Linked DNA regions of Homo sapiens: region 1 is linked to region 2. A link means that fine-mapping ties the variant in region 2 to the expression of a gene that starts in the linked region. Tissue or cell type: monocytes. Region 2 holds a variant in brackets; the other region holds the start of a gene. All regions are shown on one strand. Distances are between the middles of the regions.

Region 1 (8,092 bases), 60 kb before region 2:
ACAGAAAGCAGATTAGTGGTTGCCGGGGGCTGGGGGGAGATTAGAGGGTTGGAGGGTGATGGCTAAGCAGTGTGGGATTTCTTTTTGAGGTGATGAAAATGTTTTAAAATCAATCGTGGTGTTGGTCACACAACTCTGAATGAACTAACAGCCATTGAGTTGTGCACTTTAAATGGGTGGGTTATATGGTATATGAATCTTCATTTTTACAAGAATTTCACCTGTGGTTATCCACAACGACTTAGAAAAGTGTCAGCTTCATCGGGCATGATGGCTCACGCCTGCAATCCCTGCATTTTGGGAGGCCAAGGAAGGAGGATCACTTGAGCCCAGGAGTTTGAGACCAGCCTGGGCAACATAACAAGACCCCATCTCTACAAAAAATAAAATTAGCCAGGCGTGGTGGTGTGCTGCAGTTCCAGCTACTCTGGAGGCTGAGGTGGGAGAGGTGCTTGAAGCCAGGAGTTCAAGACTGCAGTGAGCCATGGTCATGCCACTGCACTCTAGCCTGGGAGACAGCAAGACTCTGACTCTAAAATACACACACACACACACACACACACACACACAAAGTGCAAGCTTCCTGTTTCTCTTTTTGTTGTGTTTTCCAATCTTGCAGTTATAAATAACAGTTGTGCTGAGTGTATTCACACACACACACACTCTCTCTCTCTCTCTCTCTCCCCCTAATTAATTCTTGCAAACAAATTCCCAATGGCCCTGTGTGGCTGCTGAGCCCTTGAAATACGGCTACTCCAAAGGGACTCATTATGAAAAGAGAGTGTCTGATAGCTCATAAATAATTGTTTTACATTGACAACTTGTGCAAATGACAACACTTTGTATATTTCGGGATAAATAATATATATTCTTTATTTTCTTTTTCTTTTTCCTTTTCCTTTTTTTTTTTTTTTTTTTTTTTTTTTTTTTTTTTTTTTTTGAGACAGGGTCATTCTCTTGCCCAAGCTGGAGTGCAGTGTAGCATGATCATCTCTCACTTCAGCCTTGATCTCCTGGGCTGAAGCAATCCTCCTACCTCAGCTTCCTGAGTATCAGGGACTACAGATGTGTGTCACTAAGCCTGGCTAACTTTTGTATTTTTTGTAGAGACGAGGTTTTGCCATGTTGGCCAGGCCGGTCTCAAACTCCTGGGCTCAAGTGATCTGCCTGCCTCGGCCTCCCAAAGTGCTGGGATTACAGGCGTGAGCCACTGCGCCTGGCCAAAATCTATTCTTAAAATTCATTTTTCTTCCCTCTTTTCTATTTATTGAAGGTGGCCCCCTAGGAAATTTTGTATTTTTTGTAGAGATAGGTTTTCACCATGTTGCCCGGGCTGGTCTCGAACTCCTAACCTCAAGTGATCTGCCCGCCTCAGCCTCTGAAAGTGCTGGGATTACAGGATTACATGGTGAGTCACCATATTTCTTCTTTTTTTAGATCAATAGATGCAGAAAAAGCAGCTCGTTTTTTGTTTTGTTTTGGTTTGGTTTGGTTTGGTTTGGTTTGGTTTTTTTGAGACAGCGTCTTGCTCTGTCTCCCAGGCTGGAGTGCAGTGGCGCAATCTCGGCTCAATGCAACAACCTCTGCCTCCCAGGTTCATGTGATTCTCCTGCCTCAGCCTCCAAGTAGCTGGGATTACAGGCGTGCGCTACCATGCCCAGCCTAGATTGGAGATTCAAATGTCAAAAATGACACTTTGTAATCCCAGCACTTTGGGAGGCTGAGGTGGGTGGACCACCTGAGGTCAGTGTTGGCTGGCTGCAACTAGGAGTTTTAACATTGCACGTGCGGTTCGAATTTGGGGCTGGCATTCTATTCCTGCTGGACAACGCTGCTCTGGAGAAAAGAGTCACATCACATCCATCTGTGGATCAGGAAGATCAGAGGAGGAAAAAGTGGGGGAAAATAGGAGTGAGTAAGCGGTTTGCCCAGTTGCTGTGGTAACCTTGCAGTTAAACTCTCCTTAAACATAAAAAAATCCAAACACAAAAGTAAGGGGTTGGGCCTGGTGGCAAAAACAAAAAACTCGAGGTGTTTTGGTTTCCTATTTATTTGTTTATTAACAGATGCTTTGGGCTGAGCACGGTGGCTCGTGCCTGTAATCCCAGCACTTTGGGAGGCCGACGCCGGCAGATCACCCGAGGTCAGGAGTTCCAGACCAGCCTGGCCAACATGGTGAAAATCCATCTACTAAAAATACAAAACTAGGCCGGGCACGGTGGCTCACACCTGTAATCCCAGCACTTTGGGAGGCCGAGGCGGGCGGATCACGAGGTTGGGAGTTTGAGACAAGGTTGCCCAACATAGTGAAACCCCGTCTCTACTAAAAATACAAAAAATTAGCTGGGCGTGGTGGCGGGCACCTGTAATCTCAGCTACTTGGGAGGCTGAGGCTGGAGAATGGTTTGAAGCCGGGAGGCGGAGGTTGCAGTGAACCAAGATCACGCCACTGCCCTCCAGCCTGAGTGACAGTGCGAGACTCTCTCTCAAACAAACAAACAAACAAAAAACTAGTCAGGCATGGTGGTGCATGCCTGTAGTCCCAGTTACTCGGGAGGCTGAGGCAGGAGAATGGCTTTAACCCGGGTGGTGGAGGTTGCAGTGAGCCGAGATTGCTCCATTGCACTCCAGCCTGGGCGACAGAGCAAGACTCCATCTCAAAAACAAACCAACAAAACAGATGCTTTTATAATGGTAAGTTCTCAACAAATACTTCTCTTAGCCATCTTTCATGGAGCACCAGCTGTGGGCCAGCTGCTCTTCTAAATGCTTTCCTGGATTATTCCCTTTAATCCTCATGAGAACCCTTTGAGGCCAGGCATGGTGGCTCACCATGTAATCCTGTAATCCCAGCACTTTCAGAGGCTGAGGCGGGCAGATCACTTGAGGTTAGGAGTTTGAGACCAGCCTGGGTAACATGGTAAAAACCCATCTCTACAAAAAATACAAAAACTTGCCAGACGTGATGGTGTATGCCTATAATCCCAGCTACTTGGGAGGCCTGTCATCCTTGCTACTCAGGAGGCTGAGGCAGGAGAACCGCTTGAACATGGGAGGCGGAAGTTGCAGTGAACCAAGATTGTGCCATTGCACTCCAGCCTGAGTGACAGAGCAAGACTCCATCTCCAAAACAAACAACAACAAAAAAACAAAACCCTTTGAGGTAGGGATGATGGTTGAGATATAAACCTACCAGCTGGTCTACAGAGCCAGATTCATATAGAGTAGGGGACAGCCTCATGGCCAACAAGGGACAGAGAAGCAAATGCATGTTTACAGTAGCTATGACTGACGTTCACACGCCCCAGTCTGCTGTCCCAGTCAAGGGAAATGCTTTCTTGCAAAATTCATGCCTGGTCTCACAATCATACATATGCTCAAAGCGTGTGCAAAACCACAGGATTTATTGTGCATGCATAGTTCAGAATACAGGAACGTGTATGGGAGTGAGGGCCGGTCCCATCGAGTGGGGCCTGTACCCTGCAAGTGAGGCCCATATACCCTGAATGGTGTCTTGCTCACAGGTGGTGCCTGGGCCCCCCTATTTGATACTGAGACCCATATACTGTGAATGAGGCCAGTATCCCGAGTAAGTCCTGGTCCTACGCTGCAAGGCCAGTGCCCTTTGATTTAGGCCTATATAATCCTGAATTCCACCTGGCCCCTGGAAGGGGGAATTGTAACCCCCAGTGATGCCGGTACCCTCTGGAAGGAGGCCTCTATCCCCTGAATGAGGTCGGGTATCCTTGAGTGATTTCTGGCCCTCTGTGGTTTCGGCCTTGTTTTTTGCTGGTTAATGAAAGTGGTGCTTCCAGGCCCCAAGTCCTTGTCATCGGGACCTTTAAGAAAAGCGTCTCAGGCCACAGCGACGCAGACCCCAGCTCAAGGCTGCACCGTTGCCATGGAGACGGTTGGGCGGGGGACAGGGGAGGGTGTGCGGCTCCCTCTGCGCAGGCGCACGCGCGAGCAGCCGCGTCGCAGCGGAACTGCTGAGATTCAGGCCCAGGGTGCGCGCTCAGACGCGGCGCGAGCGCCAGGCAAGCTGCGGCTGCTACCTCCCACGCCTCTCCAGGTGCACTCGGCGCCGCCCCCCTGCACCTGGCTGCGGTGCCGAGTCACTCAGGCCTGTGTCAGGGAGAGAGGGAGGGAGCTGTCCTGGAAAGCAGACACGTAAGCCCCCCGCGGATCCTCAGACAGCTCTGGAGAGGGGTCCCGGGGGAAGGTCACTGCGTCCAGCCGGCCAGCAGGCAGCTAGAGCCCCCGAGCCCCGAGCCCCACTCCAGCCTTGCCACATTCACCGGAACCGGGACTCTAAGCCCTGCAAGTGGCTTTCTAGGGTTGCATTGACACCGTGCGCTGCAGCCCACCCCTATCTCGGGCTCCCTGCTGCCCCAAGATCAGCGCCAAGGGGGCTGCACCATGGCCATGAGCCTTTTGCAGGACTGGTGCCGGAGCCTGGACGTGGACGCGCACAGGGCCCTGCTGGTCACCGGCATCCCGGAGGGCCTGGAGCAGGCAGACGTCGAAGCCGTCCTGCAGCCGACCCTCCTGCCCCTGGGCACGTTCAGGTTGCGACACATGAAGGCTTTGATGAACGAGAAGGCCCAGGCCGCCCTGGTGGAGTTTGTGGAGGACGTCAATCACGCTGCCATTCCCAGGGAGATCCCAGGCAAGGATGGGGTCTGGAGGGTTCTGTGGAAGGACCGTGCGCAGGACACGAGGGTCCTGAGGCAGATGAGACGCCTGCTGCTGGATGACGGGCCCACGCAGGCCGCGGAGGCTGGGACCCCCGGGGAGGCACCCACCCCTCCCGCTTCGGAGACGCAGGCCCAGGATTCTGGGGAGGTAACAGGGCAGGCTGGCTCGCTTCTTGGGGCAGCCAGGAACCCAAGGAGGGGCCGTCGGGGTCGCAGAAACAGAACCAGACGCAACAGGTTGACCCAGAAGGGCAAGAAGAGAAGCCGAGGAGGACGGCCGTCTGCTCCCGCGAGGAGTGAGGCCGAGGACTCTTCCGACGAGAGCCTGGGCATCGTGATCGAGGAGATCGACCAGGGCGACCTGAGCGGAGAAGAGGACCAGAGCGCGCTGTACGCCACGCTGCAGGCCGCTGCCAGGGAGCTGGTTAGGCAGTGGGCGCCCTGCAACTCCGAGGGGGAAGAAGACGGTCCCCGCGAGTTCTTGGCTCTGGTCACCGTCACCGACAAATCGAAGAAAGAAGAGGCAGAGAAGGAGCCAGCTGGGGCCGAATCCATCCGCTTGAACACCAAAGAAGACAAAAATGGTGTCCCCGACTTAGTGGCCCTGCTGGCTGTGAGAGACACCCCGGACGAGGAGCCGGTGGACAGCGACACTTCGGAGAGCGACTCGCAGGAAAGTGGGGACCAAGAAACAGAGGAGTTGGATAATCCTGAGTTCGTGGCCATTGTGGCCTATACCGACCCGTCGGACCCCTGGGCCCGGGAGGAGATGTTGAAAATCGCTTCTGTTATCGAGTCGCTGGGCTGGAGCGACGAGAAAGACAAGCGAGACCCCCTCCGACAGGTCTTGTCCGTCATGTCCAAGGACACTAACGGGACCCGCGTGAAGGTGGAAGAGGCGGGCCGCGAGGTGGACGCCGTGGTCCTGCGCAAGGCCGGGGATGACGGGGACCTCCGGGAGTGCATTTCCACCTTGGCGCAGCCGGATCTCCCTCCCCAGGCGAAGAAGGCTGGGCGTGGCCTCTTCGGGGGCTGGAGCGAGCACCGTGAGGACGAAGGGGGTCTTCTGGAGCTGGTGGCGCTCCTGGCTGCCCAGGACATGGCGGAGGTGATGAAGGAGGAAAAAGAAAACGCCTGGGAAGGCGGGAAGTACAAATACCCCAAAGGCAAACTGGGGGAGGTATTGGCGCTCCTGGCCGCCCGGGAGAACATGGGGTCCAACGAGGGGTCGGAGGAGGCTTCGGACGAACAGTCCGAGGAGGAGTCGGAGGACACCGAGAGCGAGGCGTCGGAGCCGGAGGACAGGGCATCCAGGAAGCCCCGGGCCAAGAGGGCGCGCACGGCCCCCAGGGGCCTGACTCCGGCCGGCGCGCCTCCCACCGCTTCCGGGGCCCGCAAAACCCGCGCGGGCGGCCGAGGCCGAGGCCGGGGCGTCACTCCCGAGAAGAAAGCCGGGAGCCGGGGCTCGGCCCAGGACGACGCCGCAGGAAGCAGGAAGAAGAAGGGGAGCGCGGGCGCCGGGGCCCATGCCAGGGCAGGCGAGGCCAAGGGCCAGGCGCCCACTGGATCCAAGGCCGCGCGCGGGAAGAAGGCCCGTCGGGGCCGGAGGCTGCCCCCTAAATGCCGCTAGTGGCCCCCCAAGAAGCCGCCCAGGCTGCGAGCAGGCCCCGCAGGGCACCCGCCCGCCTGTGGCCCCCGCCCTCCCCTCCCCTCTTCCTGTCCTCCGCAGACGCAATCTCCTCGCTTCACAGCGCGCCCGGGCCGCGTTTTGCCAGCGTCACGTTCCCCTCTCGGGCCCTCGCAGGCCGGGGGCGCCAGCGATCCCGACGGAGGAAGCCCGGATGGGAGGAGGAAAGAGAAGTGGGCGCCCGAGGCAGCAGCGCAGGGCCGAGATGGGGACGCGCCAAGTGGACCAGGATTGGGGGCCCGGGTTGCCCCCGGAGGGGGTGTGTGTGTGGACGCCGGGCACCTGCAGAGGCGAGCAGGGCTCTTCGTGGCGCTCTCGGGGCCTGCGCCTGGCAGGTGCTGTAGGCCGCTGTCGCCCCTACCCCAGTCTGACTGGGCCCTGGGTCTGTGGTGGAGGCTCAGTCACCAGCCGCGCAGCGCGTGTCAGGGCGCAACTCTCAGCCAGGGGAGGCCCCAGCTCCCAGCCAGGGGAAGAGATGATTCCAGAAAGGAAAGTCTGAGAGATAGAAGGCGGTTGGGAAGGGGAGGAGGAGGAAAGGGGAGAGGAACGGTGGGAGAAGGGAAAGAGGAGGAGGAGGGGGAGGGGGGAGCAGAGGGAAGACACATGCCAGCCCTGCCTACTGGGGCGCCCCTGATAACAAAGGAACCAGCCCCAGGCCAAGGCCACCTGCCCCTGACCACAAGTTGAATTTGTCACTCAGACTGCAGTGTTTCCCAACATTCTAATTATTTGCAGAGGTGTTCAATTTGGGGTAATTCACTTAAAATCCAGTTTTGGTTCTTCTGGGCTGAGTGGGCCCTGGCCCCTCCCATAGGCTGTGGCTCCCCTGGGTGCCCCCTCTCCAGTGGAGCTGACCCACCGCTCAGCGCTGGCCTTGCAGCCCTTACTAAAAGACTTGAAAGTCCCTGGGTTCACCCCCTGAGTGAATTAAAGGCCAGAGGGGCCCCGAAGGGCACTGTGAGGGACAGAGGCTCACCTGGGCAGTGCAGAAGCCGGCCGCGTGTCCCTCCTTACAGGGGATGAAATGACCTGGGGAGGAAACCCCAGCCCTGCCCTGGAGGTTCCAGAGTAGGCGGGCCGGTGCTGTGAGGCTTCACAACCTGCTGTCCCAAGCACGCTTGAGTTGTATGTGAGTCTGTGCCGTGCCGTGCCGTATGCTTCAGCTCCTGCAACCCCGGCTGAGCTCGATTTTTACCTAAATATCAGTCTCCACGGGACCCCACCTTCATTCATGCCTTCTTGTCCCTGGGGCAATGTGTGTGCTTCCTCGTCCCAATTTCCATTCCCTGGCAGTGAGGAGCCCATCGTGCCAGGGGGCCCTGCCCCACTTGTCCCTGGGAAGGAATAGGAGGGTTTGGGTGTGACCTCACAGTCCAGACCAGACTGTCCCAGTCCTATGTCAGGGACACCCAGATGTAGAAGCTGACTGAGACCTGCTGCAGGGCGTGGGTGCTCCCCTCTGCTTGGAGGCTGTCCCTGGACAGTGACCCACCCACTGAGGACCAGGCTGGGTGTACCTTGAGCTGGGCACAGCAGCCTGTGGTGTTGCCTGTGGGTGGGGAGGGCCCCAGGTGTGCTTCTCCCGTAGCAGTCCTAGGCTTCTCTCCCTGTGCCCTGTGTCACCTGGATCCTCCAGTAAAGTGAAATTCAGCACTGTACTCTCTCTGTGCTCTGGGCAGTGGGGCAGGCGGGGTGTGGGAGCGTGGGC
Region 2 (8,102 bases):
GAGGTCTTGTAAGATCTGGCTGTCACCTCCTCTCTTGCGCGGCCTGCTTTTTCTTGGGCTTTCTTCTCAACACTCCCTTGCTCCCTCTGCTGCCAGGCACCACGGGTTTCTGCTGTTCTTCAAGTACACCAGGCAGGCTCCAGCCTCAGGGCCTTTGCACTGACTTTTTTTTTTTCTTTTTTTTTTGAGAAGAAGTCTCGCTCTGTCACCCAGGCTGGAGTGCAGTGGCGGGATCTCGGCTCACTGCAAGCTCCGCCTCCCAGGTTCAAGCCATTCTCCTGCCTCAGCCTCCCGAGTAGCTGGGACTACAAGCGCCCGCCACCACGCCCGGCTAATTTTTTGTATTTTAGTAGAGACAGGATTTCACCATGTTGCCCAGCTAGTCTTGAACTCCTGAGCTCAGGCAATCCACCCGCCTTGGCCTCCCAAAGTGCTGGGATTACAGGCATGAGCCACCATACCCAGCTGGGAATTTACATTTTAACAGTGGAATTTCATATCATTGAAAACGAGATGGACTTTTCTCCATAAAACTAAGACACTCAATAGCCATCTGGAAAGGTATAAAGTTAGAGGTAGATTGGAGATTTATTATTTATTTATTTTTTTTTTTTTTAATTTTTTTTGAGAGAGAGTCTTACTCTGTCACTTAGGCTGGAGTGCAGTGGCATCATCTCGGCTCACTGCAACCTCCACCTCCTGGGTGGAGGCGATTCTCCTGCCTCAGCCTCCCAAGTAGCTGGGATTACAGGCGTGCGCCACCATCCTCAGCCTAGATTGCAGATTTAAATGTCAAAAACGACACCTCAGGCAGGGCGTGGTGGCTCACGCCTGTAATCCCAGCACTTTGAGAGGCCGAGGCAAGTGTATCACCTGAGGTCAGGAGTTCGTGACCAGCCTGGGCAACATGTTGAGACCCCCATCTCTACTAAAAATACAAAAATTAGCTGGGTGTGGTGGTGTGCTCCTGTAATCCCAGCTACTTGGGAGGCTGAGGCAGGAGAATGGCTTGAACCCGGGAGGCAGAGATTGCAGTGAGCCAGGATGACGCCACTGCACTCCAGCCTGGGTGACAGAGAGAGACCCTGTCTCAAAAAGAAAAAAAAGTTCATAACTCATGTAAGTTATGAGTGGCTAAATTCCTGGCATTACATTCTATTTGTATTAATAGCTATTGGGCTCACTGTTAACACAAGGTTTGGAACAGAGCCAGAGTTAAATGTATAAATATATACATTTGCTGTGTGAAGGATTAATTGTTCCTTTTCAACTCTCAGAAACCTACATCCTCCTACTCCAACATCATTCCTGACTGGCAAACTCCTATAACGCCCTCAGTTACCTCATCAAACCTCCCCACCTTGGGTGTTCCATCTCACCCAGAGAAAAGTCCCAAGTCCCCACCAGGAGCTTTGAGGTCTTGTAAGATCTGGCTGTCACCTCCTCTCTTGCGCGGCCTGCTTTTTCTTGGGCTTTCTTCTCAACACTCCCTTGCTCCCTCTGCTGCCAGGCACCACGGGTTTCTGCTGTTCTTCAAGTACACCAGGCAGGCTCCAGCCTCAGGGCCTTTGCACTGACTTTTTTTTTTTCTTTTTTTTTTGAGAAGAAGTCTCGCTCTGTCACCCAGGCTGGAGTGCAGTGGCGGGATCTCGGCTCACTGCAAGCTCCGCCTCCCAGGTTCAAGCCATTCTCCTGCCTCAGCCTCCCGAGTAGCTGGGACTACAAGCGCCCGCCACCACGCCCGGCTAATTTTTTGTATTTTAGTAGAGACAGGATTTCACCATGTTGCCCAGCTAGTCTTGAACTCCTGAGCTCAGGCAATCCACCCGCCTTGGCCTCCCAAAGTGCTGGGATTACAGGCGTGAGCCGCCGTGCCCGGCCGCACTGACTGTTCCTTCTGCTTGGAACACAGTTCCCTCACATGTTCACAAGGTGGCTCTCTCACCTCCTTCAGGTCTTTGCTCCAAATGTCACCTCCATGAAACCTTTACTTGGCACACTGTAAATTATAACATCCTCTCCCAATACACACTCTCTATGCCTGTCTCTCTCGCTCTGTCTCTCTCTTTTTTTTTTTTTTTTTTTGAGACAGAGTCTCGCTCTGTTGCCCAGGCTGGAGTGCAGTGGCGCGATCTCGGCTCACTGCAAGCTCCGCCTCCCGGGTTCACGCCATTCTCCTGCCTCAGCCTCCCGAGTAGCTGGGACTTCAGGCGCCCGCCACCATGCCCGGCTAATTTTTTGTATTTTTAGTGGAGACGGGGTTTCACTGTGTTAGCCAGGATGGTCTCCATCTCTTGATCTCGTGATCCGCCCACCTCGGCCTCTCAAAGTGCTGGGATTACAGGCGTGAGCCACCATGCCCGGCCCTCTGTCTGTCTTTTTAATTTAATTTTTTCTTTTGAGATGGGATCTCACTCTGTCTCCCAGGCTGGAGTGCAGTGGTATCATCATAGCTCACTGCAGCCTGGGGTCTCACTTTGTTGCCCAGGCTGGTCTCAAACTCCTGGGCTCAAGTAGTCCTCCTGCCTTGGCCTCCTAAAGTGGCGGGATTACAGGCGTGAGTCCTGGCCCTTCTCTGTCTTTCCTGCTTTATTTTTCCCCGTAACCAATCCTGATCACCACATGACATATTATATATCTTATTTATTTGTCCCTGCTCTGTCGGCCCAATACAGTGTCAGCTTTTGGAAATCAGGGGATTTTGTCCATCTCATTCATTGCTCTATCCCCAGAACCTAGACTCTAACCAACAAGTAACTTAGCCAAGGCCGGGCGCGGTGGGTCACGCCTGCAATCCCAGCACTTTGGGAGGCTGAGGCAAGTGGATCACTTGAGGTCAGGAGTTCAAGACCAGCCTGGCCAACATAGTGAAACCTTGACTCTACTAAAAATACGAAGAAAATAGCCAGGCGTGGTGGCTCACGCCTGTAATACCATCTACTCAGGAGACTGAGGCAGGAGAATCGCTTGAACCTGGGAAGCGGAGGTTGCATTGAGCCGAGATCACACCACTGCCCTCCAGCCTGGGCAATAAAGTGAGA[T/C]TCCATCTCAAAAATAAAATAATAATAATAAATATATATATATAGATTATTTAAAAAAAAAAAAAAACTCCATCGTCCAGGCGCGGTGGCTCACGCCTGTGATCCCAGCACTTTGGGAGGCTGAGGCAGGCAGATCAAGAGGTCAGGAGATCGAGACCACCTTGGCTAACATGGTGAAACCCCGTCTCTACTAAAAATACAAAAAATTAGCCAGGCGTGGTGGCAGGCGCCTGTAGTCCCAGCTACTTGGGAGGCTGAGGCAGGAGAATGGCATGAACCTGAGAGGCGGAGCTTGCAGTGAGCTGAGATCGGCCACTGCACTGTAGCCTGGGTGACAGAATGAGACTGCATCTCAAAAAAAAAAAAAGCCACCAACAAAAAACAAGTAACTAAGCTATTACATGTGGTGTGATAATATGCTAATTTCCTTTATCTGTAAAGCTTTTTTACTCTTCAGCAAAAAAGGAAACCCCATTTTTTAATAAAAATGGGTAAAAGATACAAACAGAAAATTCATGGAAAAAAATTAAGCTAAATCAAATTGTAAAAATCTCGGCCAGGCGTGGTAGCTCATGCCTGTAATCCCAGCACTTTGGGAGGTCGAGGTGGGCAGATCACCTAAGCTCAGGAGTTCGAGATCAGCCTGGCCAACATGGAGAAACCCCCCTCTCTACCAAAAATACAAAAATTAGCTGGGCGTAATGGTGGGGACCTGTAATTCCAGCTACTCGGGAGGCTGAGGCAGGAGAATCACTTGAACCTGGGAGGCGGATGTTGCAGTGAGCTGAGATCCCGCCATTGCACTCCAGCCTGGGTGACAGAGCGAGGCTCCGTCTCAAAAAAAAAAAAAAAAAAAAAAAAAAAAAAAAGGCCAGGCGCGGTGGCTCACGCCTGTAATCCCAGCACTTTGGGAGGCTGAGGCGGGCGGATCACGAGGTTAGGAGATCGAGACCGTCCTGGCTAACGTGGTGAAACCCCGTCTCTACTAAAAAAAATACAAAAAATTAGCCAGGCGTGGTGGCGGGCACCTGTAGTCCCCGCTACTCGGGAGGCTGAGGCAGGAGAATGGAGTGAACCCGGGAGGCGGAAGTTGCAGTGAGCCAAGATCGCGCCACTGCACTCCAGGCTGGGCCACAGAGCGAGAGTTCGTCCCCCCAAAAAAAAAAAACAAAACTCATTTGGCCAGGCATAATGGCTCATACCTGTAATCCCAGCACTTTGGGAGACTGAGCCAGGAGGATTGCTTGAGCTCAGGAGTTTGAGACCAGCCTGGGCAACATAGTGAGACTCTGTCTCTACAAAAAAAAAAAAAAAAAAAAATTAAGTTAGCTAGGTGTGGTGGCATGCGCCTATAGTCTCGGTTACTCAGGAGGCTGAGGTGGGAAGATTGCTTGAGCCTGGGAGGTTGAGGCTGCAGTGAGCCATGATTGCGCCACTGCATTCCGGCCTGGGCAACAGAGCAAGACCCTATCTCAAAAAAAAAAAATCTCACTAGCTGTGTGGCCCCAGGTAAGTGATTTAACCTCTCTGGTCCTCAGTTTTCCTGACTATAAGATACAGGAACTATTCAATAAATACTTGTTGAATGAATAAATGATTGAATCAATAAAACATCTAACTCATGGACTGTTGTAAAAATTAGATGACTTAGTACACATAGAAGGCTTAGAATATTTTAGTATGCCCTATGCAAAAGTTAGCAGTTATTACTTTTTAAAATAGTATTATTTGTGGTTATTATATGCATCCATCAAGATTTCTCTCAAATGTCACCTCCTGCGGGAAGCCTTCCCAGATGAGACCAGACAGATGAATTCCTTTATGGAGAATTAATCAGAGACGTTGAAGAGTGAATTAATAAAAAGGTTACTGATACAGTAATTATGTCAGTCAGGTATCTCAGGGCCGCCAAAGGACTTTATGCGGTTCTCTCTTTAAACTCTAGCAAAACATGTTCCAGGAAAACTAAGCCCACTTGATATATTCTGTATTCTACACCCCACACCAGGATCGGAACACATCGTAGTAATTATAGGGCTTCTCTCCCTGCCTGTAAACAGACTGAGCCAGCCTGTCGTAACCACTGGACTGAGCTCCTCAAAGCAGAGCCTGTCTCCCTCACTCAAGTATGCCCAGCACGTTACCCAAGCCTAGAACAAGGACACTTCTCAGTAAATCCTGGTGGATCAAATAAATGAACCATTCTCTTCCCTTGCTTCTCAATTGGGAACATGCATAAGCCCAGGGATATGCAATGGCGTGTCAAGGATTCATAAACTCGTGGCAAATATTTTGGATCAACAATTTTACTTCATCTTTGGAAGGAAAACTCATCTTTGTATTAAAATGGTCATGTCATGGAGTCGAATGTGAATTTTTTTTTTTTTTTTTTTTTTGAGACAGAGTCTCACTCTGTCACCCAGGCTGGAGTGCAGTGGCGCAATCTTGGCTCACTGCAATCTCCACCTGCCAGGTTCAAGTGATTCTCCTGCCTCAGTCTCCCAAGTAGCTGGGATTACTGGTGTGTGCCAACACACCCGGCTAATTTTTGTATTTTTACCAGAGATGGGGTTTTGTCATGTTGGCCAGGCTGGTCTCGAACTCCTGACCTCAGGTAATCCACCCGCCTCAGCCTCCCAAAGTGCTGGGATTACAGGTGTGAGTCACCACGCCCGGCTCGAATGCAAAATTTTTTATGACAAAATTAGACTTAAAAGAAATCTCTGTGGAAGAGCTGGTTCCTAAAACCCCTAAATGAGAGGGCACACTTCCCTTGTTTTCTCTCTACTGGAAAACCTGAAAAGTAGTATGTTAGTGCAACTGATGTTTATAAAGGAAGAGTCATGGTTGTTCAGGATTGGTCCGTGTTAAGCAGAAGGAGGTCTGCTATGAGCCACGTGGGATAAGAAACATTATGTGATTGGATCTTAGACAATTGGGGGTGAATCTGGGGAGGTGAGGACCCAGAAAGGGATGGTGGTCAAAACTAAAATAAGATAAAGATATCCATCTCACCCCAGTTAAAATAGCTTATATCTGGCCAGATGCAATTGCTCACGCCTGTAATCCCAGCACTTTGGGAGGCTGAGGCGGGCAGATCACCTGGGGTCGGGAGTTCACGACCAGCCTGACCAACATGGAGAAACGCTGTCTCTACCAAAAATACAAAAAATTAGCCAGGCGTGGTGGAGCATGCCTGTAATCCCAGCTACTCATGAGGCTGAGGCAGGAGAATTGCTTGAACCTGAGAGGCGGAGGTTGCAGTGAGCCGAGATTGCACCATTGCACTCCAGCCTGGGCAACAAGAGTGAAACTCCGTCTCAAAAAAAAAAAAAAAAGCTTATATCCAAAAGACAGCAAAGAACAAATGCTGGTGGAGAAAAGGGAACCCTCATACTCTGTTGGTGGGAATGTAAATTGGAGGTTCCTCAAAACTAAAAATTAAGCTAAAAATTGATCCTGCCATCCCACTGCTGGGTATATACCCAAAAGAAAGGAAATCAGTAGATTAAGGAGATCTCTGCACTCCCATATTTTTTGCAGCACTGTCCACGACAGTGAAGATTTGGAAACAACCTGAGTGTCCATCAACAGAAGAATGGATACAGAAAATGTGGTGCTTATACACAATGGAGTACTATTCAGCCATGAAAAAGAATGAGATCCTGCCATTTGCAAAAACGTGGATGGAACTGGAGGTCATTATGTTAAGTGAAATAAGCCAGGCACAGAAAGACAAACGGCATGTTCTCATTTATTTGTGGGAATTAAAATAATCAAAACAATTGAACGAGGACAGGCATGTTGGCTCACGCCTGTAATCCCAGCACTCTGGGAGGCCGAGGCGGGTGGATCACTTGAGGTCAGGAGTTCCAGACCAGCCTGGCTGACATGGTGAAACCCCATCTCTACTAATACAAAAATTAGCCAGGCGTGGTGGCGCGTGCCTGTAATCTCAGCTGCTAGGGAGGCTGAGGCATGAGAATCACTTGAACCTGGGAGGCAGAGGTTGCAGTGAGCCAAGATCGCACCATTACACTCCAGCCTGGGCGACAGAGTGAGACTCCATCTCGAAACAAAACAAAACAAAAAAAGCAGTTTTTTTTTTTTTTTTAACATATAGACAGAAGGTTACCAGAGGCTGGGAAGGGTCGTCGGCGGGATGGATGGGGGAGGTGGGGATGGTTAATGGGTACAATACTCAACACAAATAGAAAGAATGAATAAGACATACTATTTGATAGCACAACAGGATGACTATTGTTAATAATAATAGTACATTTCAAAATAGCTAAATGAATGTAATTGGATTGTTTGTCACACAAAGGATAAGTTCTTAAGGGGATGGCGACTTCATTCTCCACAATGTGATTATTTCTCATTGCATGCCTGTATCAAATATCTTGTGAACCCCATACATATATACAGCTACCATGTACCCGCACAATTAAAAATTAAAAATTTAAAAATAAACTATATTCGTGATGGCAAAATAATAATAATAATATAGGGATGGCGAGATCTTGTTTAAAAGTTACTGAGGCTGGGCGTGGTGGCTCAGGCCTGTAATCCCAACACTTTGGGAGGCCGAGGTGGGAGAATCACTTGAACTCAGGAGTTTGATACCAGCCTGGGCAACATAGAGAGACCCTTATCTCCAAAAAAAAAAAAAAAAAAAAAAAATTACTAACCAGGGAGCGCTAGGGTTGCTGGAGGAGGGGTGTATCAAAGTTTTTTTTTCTGTGACTAGTATTGGGTTTTAAGTCTCTGTAGGCCAGTCTGCTGGGCAATTTAGAAACTGAACCGGGACAGAGAGGACAAATTGGAACCTACAAGAACAATCTAGGCCAGGTGCGGTGGCTCACTCCTGCAATCCCAGCATTTTTGGAGATTGAGGCAGGCGGATCATTTGAAGTCAGGAGTTCGAGACCAGCCTGGCCAACATGGTGAAACCCCATCTCTATGAAAATACAAAAATTAGCTGGGCATGATGGCGGGTGCCTGTAATCCCAGCTACTCAGGAGGCTGAGGCCGGAGAATCGCTTGAACCCGGGAGGTGGA

The links. PIP is the estimated chance that this variant, and not a neighbour inherited with it, causes the effect.
Region 1: it holds the start of PNMA8B, and the variant in region 2 is fine-mapped to the expression of PNMA8B in monocytes (TOPMed, PIP 0.97).

The regions. Positions count from the first base shown.
Region 1 is chr19:46,491,793-46,499,884 of GRCh38, reverse strand. PNMA8B (PNMA family member 8B) reads left to right here and starts at 4,018. Exons shown (of 1, transcript NM_020709.3): 1 at 4,018-8,092. The coding sequence starts at 4,420. The coding sequence ends at 6,327.
Region 2 is chr19:46,432,277-46,440,378 of GRCh38, reverse strand. No RefSeq gene overlaps it. Among named protein-coding and RNA genes, the nearest start is that of PNMA8C, 7.4 kb to the right of the region's middle. RefSeq lists a silencer at 5,801-6,001. The variant T/C (reference allele first, on the strand shown) is at 3,042.